Regions from separate parts of the Homo sapiens genome. Here region 1 is linked to region 2. The links come from fine-mapping of genetic effects on plasma protein levels. A gene starts in region 2. The other region holds a variant in brackets. All regions are shown on one strand. Distances are from middle to middle. Region 1 overlaps CD59 (CD59 molecule (CD59 blood group)). Region 2 holds the start of CD59 (CD59 molecule (CD59 blood group)).

The links. A credible set is the group of variants that fine-mapping cannot tell apart. PIP is the posterior inclusion probability: the model's chance that the variant is causal. The UK Biobank Pharma Proteomics Project read protein levels with antibody pairs (Olink). The fine-mapping took linkage between variants from a reference panel, not from the people measured, so its PIPs are less certain.
Region 1: its variant is the best candidate, but not a certain one, in a credible set for the plasma level of the CD59 protein (UK Biobank, PIP 0.50).

Annotation. Positions count from the first base shown.
Region 1 is chr11:33,714,328-33,722,327 of GRCh38, forward strand. CD59 (CD59 molecule (CD59 blood group)) reads right to left here. Exons shown (of 4, transcript NM_000611.6): 3 at 3,043-3,144. Among named protein-coding and RNA genes, the nearest start is that of C11orf91, 18 kb to the left of the region's middle. The variant T/G (reference allele first, on the strand shown) is at 7,806.
Region 2 is chr11:33,731,499-33,741,404 of GRCh38, forward strand. It overlaps CD59 (CD59 molecule (CD59 blood group)), which reads right to left and starts at 4,925. Exons shown (of 4, transcript NM_000611.6): 1 at 4,884-4,925. It overlaps FBXO3 (F-box protein 3), which reads right to left. Exons shown (of 11, transcript NM_012175.4): 11 at 9,446-9,906. RefSeq lists an enhancer at 955-1,084 and a silencer at 4,574-5,043.

The DNA.
Region 1 (8,000 bases), 18 kb before region 2:
AATATTTGTGTATCTGACCATATCTAAACATAGAAAAATACAGTAAAAATATGACACAAAAGATTTTAAAAATGGTACACCTGTACAGGGCACTTACTGTGAATGGAGCTTGTGAGATTGGAAGTCAGTGAATGAGTGGTGGGCGAATGTGAAGGCCTAGGACATTGCTGTACACTACTGTAGATGTTTTAAATATTGTACATTTAGTCCACACTAAGCTTATTTTAAAAAATCAACCCTAGTTTACTGCCACTTTACTTTAGAAATTTTTTAATTGTAAATGTTTTTACCTTTGTAATAAAACAGGGTAAAACACAAACATGTTATACAGTGGCACAAAAATATTTTCTTTCTATTCTTATTTTATAAGCTTTTTTATTTAAAAAAATTTTTAAAAACTTTTCTTGTTTTTGTTAAAAATGAAGACACAAGCACACACATTAGCCTAGTCCTACATAGGGTCTGGATCATCAGTATCACTGTTTTCCACCTCTTCATCTTGTCCCACTGGAAGGTCTTAGGGGTAAGAATACTCATGGGGCTGTCCTGTCCTAGGAGAGCAATGCCTTCTTCTGGAATACCTCCTGAAGGACCTGCCTGCTGAGGCTGTTTTTTTTTTTTTTTTTCTTTTGTAGAGACAGAGTCTTGTTCTGTCACCCAGGCTAGAGTACAATGGCACGACCTTGGCTCACTGCAACCTCTGCCTCCTGGGTTCAAGCAATTCTTCTGCCTCAGCCTCCCGAGAGGCTGTTTTATAGTTAATTTTTTTAGTAAGTAGAAGGACTACATGCTAACATGATAAAAAATATAGTAAATACACAAACCAGTAACACATTTATTATAAAATATTATATACTGTATATAATTATCAAAATATCAAGTATTATATATTGTGTTATATTTTAGTTTTGTAATAAACTACCAAACTGTCATCCACAGTAGCTATACTGGTTTGCATTCCCACTAGGAATGAATCAAAGTTCCCACTGCTGCTGGGCGTGGTAGCTCACGCCTGTAATCCCAGCACTTTGGGAGGCCGAGGCAGGCAGATCACTTGAGGCCAGGAGTTTGAGATGAGCCTGGGCAAAATAGTGAAACCCCGTCTCTACTAAAAATACAAAAATTAGCTGGGCATGGTGGCTTATGCCTGTAATCCCAATTACTCAGGAGGCTGAGGCATGAGAATCACTTGAACCCTGGAGGCAGAGGTTGCAGTGAGCCAAGATTGCACCACTGCCCTCTAGCCTAGGTGACAGAGCAAGACCTTGTCTCAAAAAAGAAAAAAAAAACCAGAAAAACAAAGTTCCCATTGTTCCACATCCTCACCAGCATCTGGAGTTGTCAGAGTTTTGGAGTTTGGCCATTTTAATAGGTGTGTCTCATTTTTGTTTACATTAACCATTTATAAGAAATTTTGGGATTTAAGAGCTGGAAAAAGATCTTGGCTTTGACCTCCTTTCCTCTCCTCCCTACCTCTGCTGTCCAACACATACATTTCATAAATGAAAAACAGAGGTGGAGAGAGCTAGCTGGTGGCAGGACAGAAGTCAGAGCTCTAATTGCTGCTGTAATATTCATTCAACACATAGTAATTGCCCTTATCGTCTCATTTGGAAACTATACTTAGTTTAATTATACTTAGTAGTGAGGAGTCCAAGAGACACAGTTGATCAAGCTAAAGAGCCAAGTCTTCTGTGCTCGTACATAATGACCATGTTCTCGCTAGGGGCCTTACTACGCTTCCTACATTAACAGTGAATGAATATGGTCTTCCAGTGGGGGCAGAGGGACTGGTGCCCTACAGAATCAAGAGCTCTGAATGGAAGGTTTGGAGTTTTAGCTGCAATCCAGCTAAACTATATCAAATTTATCAAATCCAGCTAAATATATCAAAATTATCAGATGCCCCTGTTTTTTTAGACAGGGTAACTATAATTTGTCTTTAGTTATTGAGGGATTTCTCCTTTCTGGGGAAGTTAATCATCTTTATCTCAGGTTTTTCTGAACATGTGGGTGTCCCAAGGCTTTTCTGAGTTTACCTGACATGTTCACCATTTCTTGATGTTGACACTGGGGGGAGCTGGTGTAGAAGGTCTAAGAGTACAAATAACCTTGTGGAGTGTTTTTATTATTAATCTCTTAGAAATCTAAGCCTGAGGGTTTTACCTTGGACACTAAGAACATTCTGAAACTGCCATTCCTCGCTGGCATCATTTGCACACATCGATTCTATCCAGAACCACACCCCAGCAAGAACAGAGGGCATGTCTTTGCTGGTTTCTTTCCTCTGTCTACCACTTCCTAAACTCTATTTTAACAGGGTGATGGAGGTGAATATTCTGTAGTCTAACAAATTTGGAAAATGCAGACTGGACAGGACTTGTGCATGTTAGCATTGCCCATCCCCAAATTCATGAGCACCTTGCTCTGAGGCTACCGAGCCCTGGCACCTGCTGTTGCCCCTCCCAGGCACACCCTTCCCTTCTTAGCCCTCTTACCTCCTACGTGTCCTTTGAGCTCAGCTTGAGTCTCCTCAGGACTCTGAATATACCAGATACCCCATGGAATGAGACAGAGGCATATATAATGACATTTAGGACAGCCAAACAGGCCTTTGTCATAATTTTAATTGTATGTGTCCTTTCTTTATCTTTGCATCCCTAGCTCCTAACCCTCTGCTGGGCACACAGTAGGTTCTCCAAGGTCTGGGAGGCAGCACAGGGCTGCTGTAAAAGAGCACAAGCTTTGGAATCAGATGGACTTCCATGTTCAATTCCTGAGTCGGTTACTTAACCATAATTTCTTGCTTAATCTGAACCTCCATTTCCACATTTATCAAATGGAAATAAAAGATCACCCTTAGAAGTGCAAAACATTAAATTTAAAATGTATGAAGAAAGTGCTTAGCCCAATACACACCTGACGCTAATAAATGGTAGCTATTACTTGATGCAAGCCTAATGAGGATTACAGTGGCACAATTTTTTTCCCAGGCACTTATTACCCCATTACATTTAGGAGACAGACAGGGGAGGCTCTTACCAGCTTTGGTAATGAGACACGCATCAAAATCAGATGAACAATTGACGGCTGTTTTGCAGTCAGCAGTTGGGTTAGGACAGTTGTAGCACTGCAGGCTATGACCTAGAATCAGGAAGAAAGTCAGGATCTCTTAAAGCAGCACTGACTTGTCCCCTGGCAGCCCACCATCTCCATTAATATGGGCCCAAAGTCAGCAACTTGTGGTATACTTCCACTCCCGCACAAATGTATAGCAGTTATATCTTTCCAAATTCAAACTACAGTTCCAGCAACATTTTTTGGACCCTGATGCAAGCACAAAGGAAATATCCACATTTGAATATCCATCTAACTGTGCAATTGAGAAGCTTCCTCCTAACCTGCAACTGGAAGGAGATTAGTCTGCAATGTAATGATGTGTTAAGAAGAAATTACCGAGAAACAAACAGAATTCTATAAGTGTCTTCCAAGCAATGAATATGCCCAATTAAATCACATCCTCGTGGGTTGATGATCAATGTCTGGCAATACCTATCTGCGTGAAAATACATTTTCAAAATGAAATATGTAAAATGTCATCACAGATTAGTATTAATAGATGAACATCTGCAATTGATTTGATGCGAGGGAACACTAATTTTGAACCCCAATTAAGCAAATGGTTATCCCCCTAAAAAGAATTCTATTCCCCTCATTAGTAGATGTGTATTATTATGCTGGACTCAATAATTATGTTATGAATTTTGTCAATAAAAAAATCTGTGAAAATTTTGTTTCTTATTATTGAGGTAAGTCTCATAATACCCTTGATTTTGCCTCTTGGTCTGCAAAGCTTAAAATATTTACTATCTGGGCCAGGCGCAGTGGCTCACGCCTGTAATCCCAGCACTTAGGGAAGCCGAGGAGGGTGGATCACCTGAGGTCAGGAGTTTGACACCAGCCTGGCCAACATAGCGAAACCCCATCTCTACTAAAAATAAAAAAATTAGCCAGGCATGGTGGTGCACACCTATAATCCCAGCTACTTGGGAGGCTGAGGCAGGAGAATCGCTTGAACCCAGGAGGCAGAGGTTGCAGTGAGCCACAATTGCACCACTGCACTCCAGCTTGGGTGACAGAGCAAAACTCTGTTTAAAAAAAAAAAAAAATTGCTATCTGGTCCTGTACAGAAAAAGTTTGGTAACCTCTGGGACAGGGTATCATTACTGAACTACCCCCTTCTAAGGGACTGACCGAATGCCAGGAGTACACACTGTCAAAGACAAGACAACAGCTGTGCACTTTAAACCCATGGGCATAGGACAGCTGGGTACCAGCAGACACAACGTGAGGGTCATCTTACATCAGAAGCAAATTGCCTCCAGTTCCCTAGTTTGAAAAACAATTATTGCTCCCAGTCAATTCTTAAGACTCATCCTTGCTAGCTGTCAGTTTTTGCTGGGTTATTTTTCCTTCTCCATTTTTGTAACAACAGTGACAACAAAAAGATGAGTTACAGTCCACACGTGTGATGGGGAGAGACTGAGGAAGCAAGAGTTGGAAGGAAATCTTCCTGGTTTGTATGGATACCCCCTTTTCCATCATCAGAGATAAACTATCTTCATGCCATATGACTTCTACCATGTAATCAGTATTTGGAAGTACCTACCTCTGTGAAAAGACATTTTCAAAGATGAAACACGTAAAATCTCACAAAAGAATGTCATGGTTAAACCAAGTGTGGGTTTTAGAGCCCAACAGCTGACTTCTAGTTCTAAGGCTGAAGGCTAGGTTTATCACCATGGAAATAGATTTTTCAGTGGAAAGTCCAGTGGAAGCAAGGTGGGTCCTCACTTTCTGAGCACACACAGGAACCCAGTTCTCTAGAGCATCTGAAATGGCCATGTCTGCCCTCACAGGTGTGAAATCCTACCCAATAGAGGATCCTCTGACTTGTGAAGGTTACAGATTAATGCCTTGAAATATTAGTTTTAAAAAACAACAACAAACTAGGCCAGGTGTGGCGGCTCACACCTACAATCCCAGCACTTTGGGAGGCCGAGGTGGGTGGATCACTTGTAGCCAGGAGTTTGAGACCACCCTGGCCAACATGGTGAAACCTCGCCTCTACAAAATATACAAAGATTAGCCGGGCATGGTGGTACATGCCTGTAATCCCAGCTATTCAGGAGGCTAAGGCATGAGAATCATTTGAGCTTGGGAGGTGGAGGGTGCAGTGAGCCAAGCTTGCACCACTGCACTCCAGCCTGGGAGACAGAGCGAGACCATGTCTAAAAAATAAATAAAATAAAATAAAATAAAAACCAACCTCCTCCCCAACTTTTTTGCAGATGACAAGACAGATGTCTGGAGAGGTGATGTGACTCACACAAGGACACCTGGCTACAAAGCAGCAGAGCTGGCGGCAGCCCTGGGGCCTGTGGGCAGGGCCCCATCCACCAGGCTTTGTTTGTTCTCCCCCACTGTCAGCCTGTGGCTGTCATGCCCGTGTGAGAGGGAAGCCACAAGGAGAAGGCGCAAAGATGCAATTTTTCTTTGGTCCCTTCCTTGTGCCAGACATGTATTCACACGCATGAAATGAAAAGAGTCTAAGATGAAGGGTGTTGTTCTTGAGACTGGCCATGTTTGAGGGCCATTTTAAAAGGTTACCTGTAGACATGGATTTTTGTGGTGGCTAGATCCCGGGCTCATTTGGCCTCTTAAGAAAGCTTTAGAAGGAAAGGCTAAAACCCATGGTTGGAACGTCTGTGGGCAAAAATATTCATGGCAAACATGTTCATTCAGTGTTCAAATATATGTGCATCTATGTGCTAAGCTCTTCATAGGATTGTTAAGAGAACTAGGCTCAATTATCTTCATCCCCACCTTGCAAGAGAAAACTAAGACTAAGATGTTAACTAAATTGTTCAAAGCCACACAGCTACTAAGTGACCGAGCTGAGCTCAAACTCAGGCTGTCAGTTCTAAAATCCAAGCTTGGTTAACCATGATGTTCTTCTAATTGACCTGAGTGGGAAGAGAAGGAAACTCTAGATTATGGTGGAAACTGAGGTCAAAAACAAGCAACAGGGCCAGGTGCAATGGCTCACGCCTGTAATCCCAACACTTTGGCAGGCTGAGGTAGGTGGATCATTTGAGGTCAGGAATTCCAGACCAGCCTGGCCAACATGGTGAAAGCCCGCCTCTACTAAAAATACAAAAATTAAAAAGTAAATAAAAAAAAATACAAAAATTAGCCAGGCATAGTGGCATGCTCCTGTAATCCCAGCTACTCAGAAGACTGAGGCAGGAGAATCGCTGGAACCTGGGACACGGAGGTTGCAGTGAGCCGAGATCGCGCCACTGCGCTCCAGCCTGGGCGACAGAGTGAGACTCCATCCCCCTGAAAAAAACAAACAAAAAAAAACAAGCAATAGGTCAGTGGACAATGGTTTGATATTTTAGCCACTAAGCCAGGGTAGACGAGGTTTCCCCTGGGCCATAAGAGGCAGAGCTCAGAGGAAAGTTCCCCTGCAGGGTCCTGAGACCCTTTTGGGCAGCAGCAAAGAAGGCCTCTCATCTGTGGGCATGTGAGCTTCACATCTCAATTCTCTGAGAAAGGGCTGAAGTGCACCCCAAGACTTGTCACAGAGAAGCTGATGGTCCCAAGCTTGCTCCATAAACAAATGCAGACTGCTGGAAGTAGGATGTCACTGGGCTATTAAAATTCTAGAAAATATTCCAACTTAAGCAGCAGAGACAGAAAAAAAGAAGGAACCAAGAAAAATGAATAAATAAAAAATAATTATAGAAAAAATATAGTGTTTTAACACAGGTGAACCACATTACAGTGCACCCTGGCTAGAATCACGGAAGGTGGGGAAGAAGGGGTGCCATGACTTCTCTTTCTGCTCAGAAAGGGAGAACATATTAAAGTGTGTCCTGGCGCCAAGTTACTACTTTGCCTTCATTTCCTCAGCTGTAATATGGGAGGTAACAGTACCGACCTCCCGGAATGGCTGGACGGATTTAAATGAGACAGGCTCTGGCACAGTCCCCAGTAAACAATAAACAGTGAATATATGGTTGCTGTTAATATTCTAAGACATGCTACAGTGGTGTGGAAATCTTTTTTTAAATTGCTCACTGTATTGCCACTTTCTTTTCTGCTCCCCCCACCAACCATATTTATAAAAAACAAAAAACCAGCAGTGGCCAAGATATTATACCAACATGACACAGGCAGACAACCACACTTGATCTTTACAATGAAGCATGTGTGTTTCCACTGTTATAGAAGTTGACTCAGAAGCACACAATTTCCTCCAGCAACCAGGGGAGGGGTGGCTGAGGAGAGGGGGTGGCCCAGTGACAGATGGCCTGGAGCAGGAGGGAAGAGCAGGGACTCTGTTGCCAGACTGTGTGTTCACATTCCCGTGTACCACTTCTGTGTGTTATTTGACAAGTTATTAATTTTGGGGAGGCCTCAATCTTGTTGCTTGTAAAACAAGGATAAAAATACCACCAACTCCATCAGGTTGGCATGAGGATTAAATAAGCAAATACACGTAAAATGCTTAGAGTAGTGACTGGCACATAAATGCTTCAGGGTTAGTTAGCTGCTGCTGCTGTCACTATGACCATCATCATCATTAAAACACAGGAGGAGCCTCAGAGCAGAAGGACTGAGCTCAGATGGCTCTAAGCAGAGTGGACCCCAAAGGGACTTGCACAGCACTCTAAGAATGGTATCCATTGGTGTCCCCAAGCAGCTTATGGTGACAGGAGTGAAACTTCAGCCGCCGA[T/G]TGTTGACCCACCCCTGCCAAAAGCCACGCTGTAACTCAGGACGGGCTGTAACTCAGGACGATGCCCCACTGAGGACAAGGTCATAACATAGGAAGGAGCTGTCATACAACCCCAGACCTGTAACACTGGAAGGCAAAAGAACCAAAGCCAGGCCTGGAGGAGCAGCTGGGGCTGAAACTGAGGCTTAAGAAGGG
Region 2 (9,906 bases):
GTGGTTCTCAAACTTTAGGGAGCATCAGAATCACCTGGAGGGCTCTTAAGTAGATGATTAGACTCCAGCCCTAGAGGTTTTAATTCAGGTGGGCTAGTGTAAGGCTCAAGAATGTGCATTTTGAGCCAGCACTCAGGTGCTGCGTTTCTGCTGGTTCAGGGATCACACTAAGAACCACTGGGTTAGAGGGTGACCTGGCATAAGGGCCAGGTTACTTTAGATTGGGTTGGAAATGTTTCTTCCAACAGGGTTATAAAAGAAGCTGTTAGTTCTTAAATATTTAGGAGCCGCTTCTACTTTTAAGGGCCCATATGATTATGACATTGAATGCAAGCCATTAGGCAAGACCTTGTGATATGGTTTGGTTGTGTTCCCACCCAAATCTCATTTTGAATTGTAACTCCCATAATTCCCACGTGTTGTGGGAGGGACCTGGTGGGAGATAATTGAATCACTGGGGACGGTTTCCCCCATACTGTTCTTGTGGTAGTGAATAAGTCACACAAGAGCTGATGGTTTTATAAGGGGTTTCCCCTTTCACTTGGCTCTCATATTTCTGTCTTGTCTGCTGCCAGTAAGACGTGCCTTTCACCCTCTGCCATGATTGTGAGGCATCCCTAGCCACGTGGAACTGTGAGTCCATTAAACCTCTATTTCTTTACAAATTACCCAGTCTTCGGTATGTCTTTATCAGCAGCATGAAAATGGACTAATACACCTCCAAAATCTCATGTTGAATTTTAATCCCCAGTGTCGGAGGAGGGACCTGGTGGGAGGTGACTGGATTATGGGGTGGTTTCTAACAGTTCAGCACCATCCCCCTAGTGCTGTCTTGTGGCAGAGCTTAGGAAATCTGGTTGTTTGAAAGTGTGTAGCACTTCCCCCTTTGCTGTCTTCCTCCTGCTCCCGCCAAGTAAGGCATTCTTGCTTCCCCTTCTCCACCATGATTCTAAGTTTCCTAAGGCCTTCCCAGAAGCAGAAGCCTATACAGCCCAAAGAACTGCGAGCCAATTAAACCTCTTTTCTTTATAAATTACCCAGTCTCAGGTACTTCTTTATAGCAGTGTGAGAATGGACTAATACACCTTGTTCCTGTGTTAACTTCCATTTGGTGAGCAAATATCAAGGGCCAGTTGCTAAGATAGATGCTCTTGACATAGTAACTGGAGTTAATCCTCACAATAATACCATAAGGTAAACTGAACCTTTGCCTCCAATTACAGGGGGAGGAAACAAGATTGAGGAAGAGAACTAATTTATGCAACTAACTTATGTGGTAGGTAGAATAATGCCTCTCTTCCCCAAAAATGTCCGTATCCTAACTCCAGGAACCTGTGAAAACAGGAGACCTTGCATGGCAAGTGACTTTGTAGATGAGATTAAGGAGATTATTTTGGATTATTCAATGGGCCCAATGTAATCCCAGGGGTCATTGAAAGAGGAAGAAGGTAGCAGAGTCTGTCAAAGACTCATGACCGACAACAGAAAAAGAGGCAAGAAATTTGAAGAATGAGATGAAGACACGAAGGGTTCCCTAAGCCAAGGCACACAGGCGGCCTTTAGAAGCTAAGAATGGTCCTCAACTGACACTCAGCAAAGAAACAGAACCTCAGTCCTCCAGTCACAAGGACTATATTCTACCAGGAACCTGAATGAGCACAGAAACAGACTCTCCCCTAGAGCCTCCAGAGCAGCACAGAGCCCTGCCACCTTGATTACAGCCCTGTGAGACCTGTGTCAGACTTCTGATTTACAGAATGGAAAGATTAATAAACTTGTGGCATTTGAAACAGCTAAATTTGTGGTGGTTTCAGCAGCAGTAGAAAATTATTATAAGGCCGAGTGTGGTGGCTCATGCCTATAATCCCAGCACTTTGGGAGGCTGAGGCGGGTGGATCACTTGAGGCCAGGAGTTCCAGACCAGCCTGGCCAACATGGTGAAACCCTGTCTCTACTAAAAAAAATACAAAAATTAGCCAGATGTGGTGGCACTCACCTGTAATCCCAGCTACTTGAGAGGCTGAGACACGAGAATCGCTTGCACCCAGGAGGTGGAGGTTGCAGTGAGCCAAGACTGTGCCACTGCACTCCAGCTTGGGCAACAGAGAGAGACTGTCTCAAAATTAAAAAAAAAAATTATTAAAATTATTATAGCAACCTCTGAACTGGAAACTGGTAGAACAGCATTTAAACCCAGGTCTAAGCTCTGAGTGAACGAACCATAGTTAAACTCTAGTGGGGAGACGGGAGACTTCTTATAAATTCAGCTTCTGAAATACATTAGTTAAGCTGAGGTCATTAGAGAAGAGAGTTGACATCAGTGGTGTTTCCACAAGATTCACAGTTGCCCATGAGTATGGTTACTCCTCCTAGGAGCCTGAGGCCTTACAGACTGAAGAATTTTAAGGCTAGAAGTGTCCTCAAAATAAAACCCAATGTTTTTATTTTATAGGAAATTAGTGGAGGCCCAGTGGGATGAAATTACCTGTCCCAAGGCAACATGTTAGTCGCAAAACCACCCTGGATGGATCTTGTTTCTATTCGCCAGGGGCTGGCAACTCACAAGATACCTAGTGTCAGCAATGTCAGAGAACTAGAGCTTTTGAACCCCAGGTCTGCGTGTCACCTTGGAGACATACACAATACCTGCTCTAGCCATGCCTGTTGAAGCGCCCAGACAAACATCCATCACTCAGTTCACGGAACAAATTACATCAGCAGGAAGAGACAAAGAGAAAACAACCATCATAACGGAAAAGGCTTTCCAATCCAGCCAAGGTTCTCATGCCAGGAATAACCACTCCAAAACTCTTTGTGTGATATACATATAAATTCTAGGGTACATGTGCAGGATGTGCAGATTTGTTTCATAGGTAAACGTGTACCATGGTGGTTTGCTGCACCTATCAACCCATCACCTAGGTATTAAGCCCAGCATGCATTAGCTGTTTTTCCTAATGCTCTATCCCCACCCACCCCACCTGCCGACAGGCGCCAGTGTGTGTTGTTCCCCTCCCTGTGTCCAAGTGTTCTCATTGGTCAGCTCCCACTTATTAGGCCAGAACTCTTTGGACCAAACAAATCTGCAGCTTCCCCTACAAGGGCCTTTCCTGCAGTTTGTTCCGGAATGCCAATCCCTAACTCTCCAAAGAGTCCTATCTCCGCACTCACGGCCCCTCCCGTGTTAAGTACACATGCAAAACCAAGGTTTAGTGAATATGTTTCCTAAGATATAGGACATAAGTAAAAAGAAGTCTTTGCCTTTAGAAAGCCTCAAGCACTTCTGGGCTTGGCAATGTCTGTGGCGGTTTGGCTGAGGTTCTTAAAGAGGTGGCCCAGAATTTTCCATGCTCTACTTTTCAAGAGCTTCTACCAGCAGCTGTCAAAGATGAATGCCATTAGGCACCCCACTCTCTCACCCTAAGATCCATTTTATTTAGGCTTTTATCTCCTAAGCCACTCAGCTAATGGGATGTTTTTCTTACAGCTAAGTTCAGCAAACAGTTTCTAGTTTCCACTGTGAAAATACAGAGGCCACAAGTTTTAGGACTGTTTGGCTTGTAGGGGAGGCAGCCTCCCTTTCTGCCTCTCCTTCATAAACTGCCACGTAAATAGCCACATTTTGGCAAACGTTGCCATCTCCCTCAACATTCGGGGCTCTGTGCCTTCTTCAGGGAACTGGGAGTAAACCGCCAGGAGTGGAGAACTTGAACAACTGCTCAGGGATCGCAGGGTACCTGAAATAATTAGCAGCCGCCGCGTTTGTGCTGAGCGCTTTCCGTCAATCATCTCAACCACCCTGTGAAGTGAAGCCTATTGTTTTACCCATCAAGTGCTGTTAAATACTTCCAGAAATGACCAGTGAAGAGCCTGGGTATCACTAAACGGCCATAAAAGGCACACTGCTTAATGTTGGTTTTTTTTGTTTGTTCTTTGTGGGTTTTGTTCGTTTTTGAGGCGGAGTCTCGCTCTTATTGCCCAGGCAGTAGGGCAATGGCGCGATCTCGGCTCACCGCTACCTCAGCCTCCCGGGTTAATGTTGTTTTTTGAAAAGTCAGCAGTCAGACTCTAAGAAGGGTGCGGCCCGAGCCGACCCAAGAAAACAAAACATCACGTTGTACTTAAAACGTCCGTTTCGGCCGGGCGCGGTGGCTCACACCTGTAATCCCAACACTTTGGGAGGCGGAGGCGGGCGGATCACGAGGTCAGGAATTCAAGATCAGCCTGACCAACATGGGAAAACCCCGTTTCTACTAAAAATACAAAATTTAGCCAGGCATGGTGGCGCATGCCTGTAATCCCAGCTACTCAGGAGGCTGTGGCAGGAGAATCGCTTGAACCCGGTACACGGAGGTTGCGGTGAACCCAGATCGCGCCACTGCACTCCAGCCTGGGCAACAGCGAAACTCCATCTCAAAAAAAAAAAAAAGTCCGTTTCGCCCGACACCTGCTTTTCAAAATTACACATTTAGACCGCGAGGGGAGAGAGGAACTGCCGTGACCACGGAGGGCTGGCCTTTCCCCCGGCGCAGTTTCTCTGGACCGCTAGAGCTTCCCTTGAGACGAAAGCGATGGCAGGGGCCCGGGTGCGAGGCTGCCCCCGAGGGAATGGGGGGCGCGACGGGGGTAACGGGGCTGCTTCTGGGAGAGGGCGCGCTCCCCGTTTCTCCTTCCTCGTAGATAAAATGAAGCCAGCGTTCGGCTAGGACACCGGGCCGCGGTGACGGGTTGGAAGGGCCAGGCCTCGGGAGGCTCGCCCGGCAGGGGTCGAGTGGAAAGCGAGGACGGGGGTAGCCCCCACAGACCCTCCGCCCGGGCCCAGACTGCCGCCGCCACCTCGGCTCGGCTCACCCAAACCCCAGCAGGCCTTCGGGCCTTCTTACCTGGCGGCGCCCAAGATCCTCTTCCAGCCTCGAGCCGCTTCTGCGCTCAGCCCCCGCATTCTTTCGCTCCAGCCCGCAAGGCTCCGCCCCCCGGCCCCGCCCCTCAGGATGCCCTTGCCCTCCCAGGCTCCCGGCTCCCGCACCGCGCAGCCGCACCTCGGCAGGAACCTCCTCCTCTCCCTCCACCCCCGCGCGGAGCTCAGCCTCCTGGCCCAGGTTCTGAGAAGGCCGGGTGGCCAGGACCCAATGAGCACCTTCAAAACCCCAGGGAACTGAAAGTTTGGGGCGTCCTCCTCGGATTTGCTATGGGACATAAAAACAGTAGGAAACTTCCAAAGACTTCTGATTTTCCCTTTTACTTTTTTTTTAAGTATATTAAAATGTTTTTCAAAACGTTTCTGTGCGTCTTGCTGGTGCCCTGGGTGCCCCAGGGCCTGGCTATCGGGCTATGCGGCCCTGCTGCAGTCTGAAGCTGCTTCCTACTGCGAGGCTTGGGCAGCATCCAAATAGCCATCAGCCACAGCCGCATCCGTATCCGTGCCTTGTGACTTGTTTGAGACCCAAACAAAATGTTATGCGTTTAAAAGCTTACTGGGCTGCTCGGGGACCAGTGTTTTGAATGAACCTCTTCGAGTGTCTCTATCAACTTAGCTGGTAGCTACTGTTCCCCAGCAGCCACCAGAGGCAGGGACAGAAGAGCAAGACCAGGGGATCCGCCTGCATGAGTCTGTCCCTTCAGGGTGGCCTCGCCTCAGGGACTGGATTGTAGGCATGGTTTCAATAACACAGCGGTGTGAAAGTTTAAGAGTTTTTAGTACTTACGGACCCTGGGTGGTACACAGCTTGCCTAGAGGACACACACACACACACACACACACACACACACACACACACGGAGATCAGGGAGAACAGGGAGAGGGAAGGGAGGAACGGACCTTTGGGCCAGCAACTTTATCCAGTTAGGTTTCCTCTGGAGAGCTCTAACTGGTGGATTTAAAAGCAAGCAGGTGAAAAGGCAGAGGTGGGAGGAACTTGAACCAGAGTTTGAAGCTGCAGTAGTGCCCTGTTATCACATCACTGCATGTTTATCTCTGGCCACCAGCTAGAGCCATTTGCGTGGGGTATAGTACTGGAAACTGTCAATGGTGACTGAGACTTGCTTCTGTTATTAAAAGTTAAACATATTCAAAAATGGATGCTGAGGTAACAAAAAATTATAAGCACTCACCAGAACCGCAACCACCATTTGGAACATTAGTTTTATGTGCAGATGTAATTAGAAGTTTCCATTTGCTATTATATTTGGAAAGTGTCCCACTCACTGCAGAACTGACTGTAAGAACGCCATAGGAGGGAGGGTGGGGCTACAGGCCAAAAGTACAAGTCTTCCTCCAAGAGGATGGCCTCTGTTAGAAAGCATGAGACACACTTTGAGGGTCAGGGTGAGAAGATATTACATCTCAGGGCTGCTTGTGTTGAACTGGTCAGGGAAGAAGGCATGAGATAAAATTTAAGCAGGGGGAATCATAGATTACTGAATGTCTTGCAGGGAAAATCATATAGTAACTGTCTTGACGCTTCTACTGTTATTCTGATGGCTTTGGGATGTCAGGGAATGAGTTCCATTTGGTGGTGCTCAAATCCTGGTATTCCTCTATACAAGTGGGAGTTTTTTAAATCAGGATGACTTGCTTTGATATTTAAAGCATGTCTCCTTAAAACAGCTAATACTGTATATTTCCCAAGATGGATTCCAAAGCTCTTTTGTGTACATACCTTACACACATCCTGTTAGCTATTCCTTCCTTGACACGCTTGGCTTCTGAGATGCCACTCTCTCCTAGTTTGGTTCCCTAGAATGGTTTCTTGACCATTCGGTCTTGAGATTCTTTTCCTTTACCCACTAATAATTTGGTGTCCCAGGATTAGACTGAGAACCATGGCTGTGTGTGCTCCCTGGGAGACTATAGTGTATCTACTCTTTTACCTTGGGATGTATGTTTGCAGATGATTCAAAAGTCTGTCTCCATCCCTGACCACTCCCCCTATCTTCATATTCATATCCAGCTGACTGCTGGACATCTCCACTTATATGTTCCACAGACATCTTGAACTTAATGTGCACAAATCTGAATTCATCTTTAAAGAGTGACTGCTTTTCCTGAATTTTTTTCATAAATGAAGACAGAAACCTAGGAATCAACGTTGACCTCTTCCACTCCCTCACATCTACTCAGCCATTCCTGCCTATTTTACCATTTCAATATCTCAATTTCATTCCTTTTTCACATTGCTACTGTGCTAATTCAGATCTGTAGTTTGCGTTGCTTGAGCCATTACAATTCCTTAATACCAGGTCCCCATGTTGCCCATGTCAATTCCTGCATCCCCTGCCCCTTCTCTGCTTGCCCTCCACACGGCTGCTAGAGACCTGGCTAGTTTACCTCTCCAGCCTCATGCCTCACTTTTCATTTTCCACTTCATTTTACCTTGTTATCATCATCCTTTTGTGAATACAATATGCCTGCAGCAGCCAGTATGCAACCATGATCGTCTTTGAGAGGAAAAGTCTTGTGCTAAGGATGGCAGGTCAGAAAGATGGAGCCAATCTGGACTGTTGATAACACCACTGTGCCATCATGTCAGCCTTGAACTAGCTACCTCTGACTATTCGCAAGAATAACCACCCCCAAACTATTTAAGCTACTGTTAATTTAGGTATTTGTCTTATTCTAGTGATATATCAAGCCTCAGAGAAATTAGTAAAAAAAATCAGTTGTGTTTTCAAGGGTCCTCAGAGCCAGAAATGGCCTTTTCACCACCAAAAGTAGAGTCTGGTTTGGGCAACATTAATGCCAACTGTTAAATTCCTGTTACGTGTGAATAAGCATTCTTGCCAATAGCAGAAAATACAGAAGCTTGTTACCAACAAACTTCACGTTAGGCCGGGCGCGGTGGCTCACACCTGTAATCCCAACACTTTGGGAGCCAGAGGCAGGAGGATCACTTAAAGACAGGAGTTTGAGACCAGCCTGGTCAATATAGTGAAACCCTGGCTCTACTAAAAATGCAAAAAAGGGCATGGTAGTGCACACCTGTGATCCCAGCTACCCACGAGGCCGAGGCATAAGAATCACTTGAACCTGGGAGGCGGAGGTTGGAGTCAGCCGAGATCATGCCACTGCACTCCAGTCTGGGAGACACAGCGAGACTGTCTGAAAAAACAAACAAAAAACTACACCTCAGTATGAACTAGAGGTCACTCATTCAACATACTAAGAGAATGTGAATTCTGATGAGAGGATAAAGCAAATCAAAGCATTCTGAGGAGCAAAGGTTAGACAGGGTTGGAAGGGAGATTTGGGGCATCATAAGTACTCTGGAAATAGAGAGAGAGGTCATCAGAAAAGAGAAAGAAAAAATGGCAAGGGATTCCAGGGCCAGCCTTAATTGCCAAGATTTACTAGTTTTTGATTACTGCTTTATTGGAAAAGTTCGGTTTTGAAAAAATTAAGTGGTTTGACGCTATGGTCTGAATGTTTTTGTTCCCCCAAATTGTTGAAATCCAATCCCTAAAGCAATAGTATTAAGAGGTAGGGCCTTTAGGCTCTGCCCTCATGAAGGGGATTAGTGCCCTTATAAAAGAGGCCTGAGGAAGTTTGTTTGCTCTTTCCACCACATAAAACACAGCAAGAAGGTGCCATCTTTGAAGCAGAGAGTGGGTACTTACCAGACACCAAATTTGCTGATGCCTTGATCTTGGACTTCCCACCCTCCAGAACTGTGAGCAATAAATCTCTATTGTTTGTAAATGACTCAGTCTAAGGTATTTTGTTATAACAAACTAAATAAAGACAATTGACTTTTTTTCTAAAAAGGATAGCCGCCGGGGGCGGTGGCTCACGCCTGTAATCCCAGCACTTTGGGAGGCCAAGGTGGGCAGATCATGAGGTCAGGAGATCGAGACCATCCTGGCTAACATGGTGAAACCCTGTCTCTACTAAAAATACAAAAACTTAGCCGGCCGTGATGGTGGGCACCTGTAATCCCAGCTACTTGGGAGGCTGTGGCAGGAGAATGGCGTGAACCCGGGAGGTGGAGCTTGCAGTAAGTCGAGATCACACTACCGCACTCTAGCCTGGGCCACAGAGTGAGACTCCGTCTCAAAAAAAAAAAAAAAAAAGGATAGCCATAATAGGATTTGATAGCCTGATTATACTCTATTAAATGAAAAGTAAACATGAAAAATGACTTAGTCTATTTCAGAACACCTTGACATGTGTGAAAATGAAAGGATAAGTTTGTCTTCATGTTCCCTAATGGCAGCTGCTTAGCCTTGAATGCCACTTGTTTTCTTACAGTTTTCTCTATAAAATAACTGTTCTTGGGGGAAAATGGATGGTGGGGCACACAAGACAGTACAGTCAAAGCTAGGAGATGACTTTGAGTGGACCTGCTACTTTTGCAGCAGGTCAGCAAGAATCCATCCCATCTTCTACCTTAAAAGCAAATGCTGACTAATATTAGTTTATGGAAAATAAGCAATTATACAAAATACAGAATTGGAACCAAAATTTGCTTTTAAAATGTGAGTTTTTAACACTTGAAGGATTTCATTCTTAACTCTCAATTATATAATTACAAAAAAAATCCAAGTTTCAGGAAAACATACTTAATCCTAACATAAAATTCATGTCACTTATCACAAAGACAGTCAAGTGTATAAAGGAGAAACAAAACAGAAGCAGTATTTACAAATTTAAACTACATGAGATGTTGTGAACAATCTTTTGTTAATAAACAGCACGTTACATACTTTTACATACTACATTTCAAAAATGCATCTGTGAATAATATGATAAAGCGCATAGTGTTGAAGACTTTAAATTAAATCCAAGGTCATCATGTTGAAGACCTGAAATTAAATTCAAGGTTGTAGTGATGAAAAATTTAAAGTCAAGGTCTTAGCGATAAAGACTTTAAATTCAAAGACAGATTGTCTAAGGACAAACCACTAGCGTTC